Linked DNA regions of Homo sapiens. The protein of the gene in region 1 purifies or fractionates together with the protein of each later gene. This does not show direct contact. Each region holds a gene or a part of one and is shown on either strand. Other genes may lie near its edges.

Region 1 (4,022 bases):
TTGATTCACTGGAATTGTAAATATAATACAATATTATATTATTGAGTATTATTAAGTATTGAGGTTATAATTTGAGGATGAATTGACACCATTAGCACATCAGGCCATCCCAGCCAAGACTCTATACTGCTCCCCATGTGTTCAGATCATCTTCTACATTTTTATTAGTATGTATTTAAAATTTTTTCTTTGGAGCTATGTCATGTTTTTGGTTAATTCCTAGATATTTTATAGCAGATTTTTTCAAAGTGTGACATGAGGACCTCTGCAGAGTGGTCCCTGAAATCCTTATTTTTCAAATTTACATGTGAGAATATATTTTCATCATATGCTTCAATATATTGCCACAGACTGAATGAAGAGGCAGATGAAACCATCAAGCTGTTTCCTGCCAAGCTAGGACATATGAGGTATTGGCTAAAATGTCAAACAAGGCCACTCTTCTCATGAAATGCTTTTTTCCTAATGTGATTATTTGCCTGAAAATGTTTCCCATATTAGCATTCAATAGACTTACTATTGCTCTTTAGAAATTTTTTTTTGAGACGAAGTCTCACTCTGTTGCCCAGGCTGGAGTGCGGTGGCATGATCTCGGCTCACTGCAATCTCCGCCTCCCGGGTTCAAGTGATTCTCTGGCTCAGCCTCCCAAGTGGATGGGATTACAGGCGCGTGCCCCCATGCCCAGCTAATTTTTGTATTTTTTGTAGAGACCTGGTTTCACCATGTTGGCCAGGCTGGTCTCAAACTCCTGACCTCAAGTGATCCACAAACTTCGGCCTCCCAAGGTGCTGGGATTACAGGCGTGAGCCACCGTGCCTGGGCATGCTTTTTTAAATATACTAATAACTAAATATTTTTAATAATTTTCAATTTTCATTTCCAATATGGTAAAAATGGATAGTTCTAAACCACATAAACAAAAGCCCTTTAGAGTGCTTAGTAACTTTGAGGTGTAAAGGGATCCTGAGCGATGTTTCTTTATATTAATAGTTTGTGTTGCTATTGGGACTGTTCTCTTTCTCTGTATTCAGATTATACTTCTTGAATGCTTGTTACTGGTGTGATACTAGGAGGATCACTGGGGTTTTTGCCAGCTGACCTTGCCTTCTGCATCACTGGGCTCTGTTGCTGTTCTAATACATGATGTCATCATTCTTTCATCTTTTCTAGGTAGATGATCACGTCTCTTCCCTTCCAGTCCTTAGATACCTTAGATAACTTGTTTCTTTCCCTTACCTTATACCATCACTCACGAATTTCAGCTCCATGTTAAAGAACAGCGGAATTAGTGAGTATCCTTGGCTTTTTCTTGACTCTAAAGTGATGCATGGAAAAGTTTCTTCTTCAGTGTTGTATTTGCTAATTTGTGCTATATATTCTATATCTAGTTAAGAAAGTCTCCTTGGATTTTGTGTTGTGAAGTGTTTTTTTTTAAATCATAATAGGAGTAGGGTTTTAGAGAATGTATTTATGCCTTGATTGAAATAATCATGATTTTTCTTTTTAAATCGATTCCTGTGATAAATTGTATGATAGGTTTTCTGATGTTAACCAATCTTGTCATTTATGGAATAAACCAATGCCACTTGATCATGGTAAACTATTTTTAATACACCATTAGATTTGAATAGGTTATGTTTTATTCTGGAATTTTAAATCTGCCTGGATAGGTGAAGTAGGCCTATAATTGTCTCTTTTTCTCGGTGAAGATTCTTGCCTGATTTTAGACAAAGATTGCATTAACTTGAGGAGATGTGTTTGTCAGATTTCCTAACTCTTTTCTATTTTTTTGAAGATCATGTGTAAGATTCTAACCAACTGTTTTTTTTTTTAACAGTTTAATAGTACTTACCGCACTTTAATAAAACCCACTGGGGCAAAGATTTTAGAGAGACGATCTTTGACTACCGTTTCAATTTCTTTAAAGCTTATTTGAGCATATAGCATCCCCTTTTTTCTTGCACCAGTTTTGGAATTTTATATTTTTCTAAGTACTTGTTCATTTCATCTACAATGTAAATTTGTTATTTCTTTTACTATTTTTATTAATTTAAAAATATCAATTATCTCTGTAATTATTTCCCATTTGTAATTTTGGGTTCTGTTATTGGTACCTTCTCCTTGTTTATCTTATTAATTTTTTCCAATAACTTGATTTTGATTTTATTATGCATGATTTTTTTCTTGAGGCAGTTTTTTGATAAAGGTATTTTGAGCTGTATATTTCCTTCAAAGTACTATTTTAGGTTAAAATGTTGACATTCAATATTTAAATTATCATTTAATTCTAAATATTCCTCCATTTTATGATTTACTGTTGAAACTGTAGATTATTTAATTATATAGTTATCTTCCAAACACATGAGATTTGTAAAGCTATTTCTTCCCTATTGATTTTTAATGTTAATTCATTATAATCTATATCATATTATTATGCTTTGGAATTAAATAAATTTTTATATTCTAATGAAATGTCCATTTTTGTAAAAGTCGCTGAGTGGTTGAAAGAGTGTTAATTTTCTTTTTGGTGAAGAGTCTAATATATATAATAGCTAATGTCTGGATATTATTAATTGCTTTGTAATTAATAATTAATAAATTGCATTTCTGAACTCTGTTAAAATTTCTAACTATAATAATCTATCTGCCAGGTGTGGTGGCTCACACCTGTAATCCCAGCACTTTGGGAGGCTGAGGTGGGCGGATCACCTGAGGTCAGAAGTTTGAGACCAGCCTGGCCAACATGGTGAAACCCTGCCTCTACTAAAAATACAAAAATTAGCCAGGCGTGGTGGCACGCGCCTGTAATCCCAGCTATTAGGGAGGCTGAGGCAGGAGAATCAGTTGAACCTGGGAAGGGGAGGTTGCAGTGAGCCGAGATTGAACCATTGCACTCCAGCCTGGGTGACAGAGCAAGACTCCGTCTCAAAAAAAAAATAATCAATCTGCCGTCGATTTGGCTATTTCTATCTATCTCACTGAAGTTGTATTGATTATTTGTTAATGAATATTCCAGGATATATAGTTACATGGATTTATAGTATTGATGCTGTTTGCTATGTTCTTTTAATGGGTATAAATGTTATTCTCTGTCCCTTAGTGTGTGTGCATGTGTGTGTGTGTGAGATGTAAAAATCTTGGTATGCATTGAAAAACTAAACATTTACCTTCATAGTCAAAATAACCAGATAACACTTACAAAAATAATTAGCTGAGCATGGTGGCTCATGTGTATAATCCCACCACTTTGGGAGGCTGAGACAGGAAGATTGCTTGAGGCCAGGAATTAGAGACCAGTTTGGGCAACAAAGCAAAGCCCTGTCTCTACAAAAAAAAAAAAAAAATGTTTAATTAGACAGGTGAGGTGGCACACATCTGTAGTCCAGCTATTTAGGAGACTGAGAAGAAGCATAACTTGAGCCCAGGAGTTCCAGGATGCAGTGAGTCATGATCCTACTACTGCACTGTAACCTAGGGGGCAGAGTGAGACCTTGTCTCTAAAAAATTCACAATTAGATCAATAATAATGCTTTAATATTACTCATACGTAATCATTCATTCATACTGTAATCAAAATGTTCTCTATTGCCTTAAAATACTTACAGCTGGTTATGTAGATCAAGATTCAACTAGTCCCCTATGTTGCATCCAGTTACTATGTCCTGGAATCTCTCTTATCCTTTCAATATACCTCTATCAGTGAAACCAGACCAATTGTTCTGTGGAATTATCCACCTTCTGGATTTTTCTGAAAGCTTTCTCATTATATAATTTAGCTTGTTCCTCCATCTTCTGTACAATGATTATTGTTTTTGACTAGTGGGCATCTTTTCAATCTGGTACCTGCAGGCTTTTAATATTATCCCATTACTTAGTGAAAATTTCATTTTACACTGGTAGAAGATGTCCAAGGCTTTCTTCCATGTCCAGACCACAGATCAGCCATGTGTTAAGGAACTCTACTTCCCTGTAGAGGTGTATTGTATTAGAGACCTTGCGATCATTGTTTCCTTAAATTCCA
Region 2 (3,500 bases), on another chromosome or scaffold:
AGTACACAGCCAAATTCAGGAAGGGAGGTGAATGAGGCGCAACCAAGTTCCTCCACTCCTAAGAACCGAGAAATGCACACACTGGTGTGCCACCCCAGGGTGCTCTGGTAACATCCATCAAAATTTAGAGTGGCTCATGCCTGTAATCCCAGCACTCTGGGAGGCCAAAGGGGGCAGATCACTTGAGCCTAGGAGTTCGAGACCAGCCTGGGCAACAAGAGACTACATTTCTACAAAAAATACAAAAATTAGCTGGGCATGGTGGCTCATGCCTGTGGTCCCAGCTATTCCAGAGGGAGGACTGGTTGAGCCCAGGAGGTCAAGGCTGCAGTGAGCTGAGATCACACCACGGCCTGGGCAACACAGCAAGACCCCATCTCAAAAAAAAAAAAAAAAAAAAAAGTAGAAGTGTACATCCTTTCACCCAAGAATCCCACTTACAAAGATCTACCATAAGGAGGTAATTGCAGGTGGGAACCTAAAAACATGGAAGGAAAGAGGATTCCGTATATTAGGATCCCTCTATACAATAAGGAGGCAGCCTGGGAACAGGAGTTACTGAAATTCAGGACTGGTCCCTCAACACCTAGTTTAGTGGGGAAAAAGGGAGATTACAGAGCAGCATGCAGAGCACATTTCCATGGATGTAAAGCACATCCACGAGCAAGGTGTTGTAGTAGTGAGTGTGCAAACTGCTCAAGCTGGCCACCTTCGGGGAGCAGAGCTCCAGGCAGCTTTGAGTTTCTTCTTTGCAGTTTTCCACACTGTCCACTTCCTTAACATGATCATGTATTATTTTCCCCTTACACAATAAAGTTGTATGTTTAAAAGCTCCTGAAATGGGATGATTTCCAATCTTGCAAAGCACACATTCCTGAACAATTATATTTCATGTGAATATTTGTATTTTGAGTCATTTTGTTTACTAGTTAACACTATAATTCCTGAGATATGTTCCTACTAAATGGACCTTCCACATAAAAACAATTTATTTTAAAATTTTAATTCAATCAAAATATAGTCACTTAAATGCCTTCTCTACATATTTTTTCCAGTGTTCTCACATATATCATTTCTCCCAATGCAGATGGCAGTGACAGAATAGTTCCCACTTCAGAACAAGGAAAGTGACTGAAAGAAATACCTGACTTGCCCAAGGTCACCTCCATGATATGTCTAAGACCAGGTCTAGTTTTCCTAACCCCAGCCCAGTGCTTTCCCATGAATGCCCAGCGGGACAGGGTTGTTCAGACTCCACTCAACTACAAAGGCACTTATCAGCCATCTTCACCAGGAGGACTTTTCAGAATACCAGACATTCACATTCAGTAAAATTGTGCATGTTATTTATTCCTTGATTGACCAAAGCCGGCTTGCATGTGTTTTCCCTTCCTTATTTACAATTTTCATCAACCTTTAAGATAATCAAAAAGCAAAAGTTAATTTGCTGTTTCTTTACTGTTTTCTTTACTGTTTCAAAACAAAGTTGCCTCTTGGAACCTCTTTTCAAAAGTAGCAACAGGTTACCAAAAAATATAGAGATATATATAGAAATATACAAAAGCCTCACGGGTTCACATTCCCCAGGTGGCCTTCTAAGATGTGGTTTTACTACCACTTTACCCAAGATGCCTAAGCCACCAACACTACCAACAATAACTTTATATTTCCCTTCTACAGACTCTGTAATTTCTAAGTTTTATTTACCTAACGGTATATATTAAATAATAATAATGTTCCCATTTTACATGCATCAAAGGCATATTTGCCAACTGCAGCCTTTAGTAGCATGAGATTCAGAATACTATCAAATTTTCTTGCAAAAAGCAAAGGCATTTAGTATTTTAGCCCTAAATATGGTAGCTTTAACAAGGGTAAAGATACGTGTTCTATGTTTTTCAAAATTAAGGGCAATGAATTTCAGCACCCATACTCTCTTCCTCGATTCCCAAGCCTTAGAACCACTGGTCTACGCAACATAGGCAGCCATGTTCAATGGAAAATAACAAAGAGCAAGTCCCTACAATAAAACCTGCTAGAAAGGACACTTTTAAGACTCCAAAAATCAAAGTGAGTCAGGAGCCAATAGCTTCTATGAGGCAGAATGCTGTAAAGAACATTTAAGGCTCAGGTCCAAGACTATCAGAATCCCAGGAACACTAGAAAATGTTCTACAGAAGCAAGTTTCCATTTTTATGATGTAAAGGGAGAGGAGACAACTTCACAAAAAGACATTCTGCTTTATAAAATTTTCCAGGACAGTATCTATTTCACGAATCAAACACCCACTGACTTGAACCAAAAGCAACAGCTAATGGAAGTGTTGTTAATTACAGGATACCTTTCTCTCTCCCCTCCACAGCTCTTTTAAAAACTGAATAGATGCTGCTGCCCAAATCACAGAAAGGGAAATGCAAACATTTCTCCCCCTGGTCCTAAATGCCTAAGTTTTCATTTCAAATAACTGTCCCTTAAAGTTCTATGATCAAGCAAAGACTCAATTTCACAAATATAAACTCAAAAACTAGAACTCAGGATTGAAAAAAAAATCTAGTTCAAAATATGTAGGCAATAAAGCTCAAAATCTTTTAAGTATCAGACAGTAACTAAGCACCTGCTGCTATGTCGACTGCCATTAATAATAAGCCAGTCTTCCCTCTTAGGTTTCTACCCCTCCGCCTAAACAACAAAAACAGCTTTAGTGGCCATTATTTCAGGAGGTCGGAGCACATGCTGCACCTGTGAGCTTCAACCTGTGTTCTTGGCTTGTACCTGCCAGCAGAGCAGGATCCCTCCACCATCTCACCACACACCTTCTCAACATGAACACGGACATGCACATAAATCTAGGACATTCTGAAAGAAGGGGAAATACTCAGCCATGAGAAATCCTGTCCATACGGATGGGGGATCTCACAGTAAACAAAGGTCTAGCCCATAATGACTGAAAGTTCATTTGAGAGTTAGAAGGAGAAGATAAATCTTTCCTATTTAGGTAAATTAGGTGAGATAAAATATTTGTTAGTTAACACACAAAGGCTTCATGAAATTCTGGAGCCTTTCAACAATAGAAGACAGGAAAGAGGATCGGGCAAGCGGGGAAGAGAGACAGAGACATTCTGCACTCATTTCTGTTTTAAAAGTACGTTTCAGACAAACAGACTAGCCTCATAACAAACTACCTGGCAGGGCAGTGTGCTGAAGAGCTCTGAGCGAGTGAGCTTATTGGAGATATAACCCCAGGAGCACAGGAAGTCACCTGCAAGGAATCCTGGCTAGAGTCTCAGATAGAACCCAGAGAGAGGCTCCCAGAGGCTTTGCCGGGGGCTGGGAAGCCAATGACCAGGACATGCAATAAGCAAGAGATGGTCACAGAAAGTCAAAGCAAATAATAAAGACGGCAAATGGAAAAACACGTCCATAAGAGGTCGAATCGGGAGGTGCCCAGAGGTCAGACACAATCCAGTGAAAGGCTAAGTGGCCTTGCTTGTTCCCAGAAC

Evidence for each region. Proteins that work in one complex are often made in the same cells at the same time.
Region 2: the proteins of OR10H3 (region 1) and CYB5A purify together in Homo sapiens (affinity purification with mass spectrometry, with the first as the bait; one large-scale study listed by BioGRID). This does not show direct contact.

Annotation. Positions count from the first base shown.
Region 1 is NC_000019.10:15,736,763-15,740,784, forward strand, and holds the start of OR10H3 (olfactory receptor 10H3), read left to right. Parts: upstream 1-1,222; 5' UTR 1,223-1,289; intron 1,290-4,022. UniProt on the Homo sapiens protein: Odorant receptor.
Region 2 is NC_000018.10:74,285,464-74,288,963, forward strand, and holds part of CYB5A (cytochrome b5), read right to left. Parts: intron 1-3,500.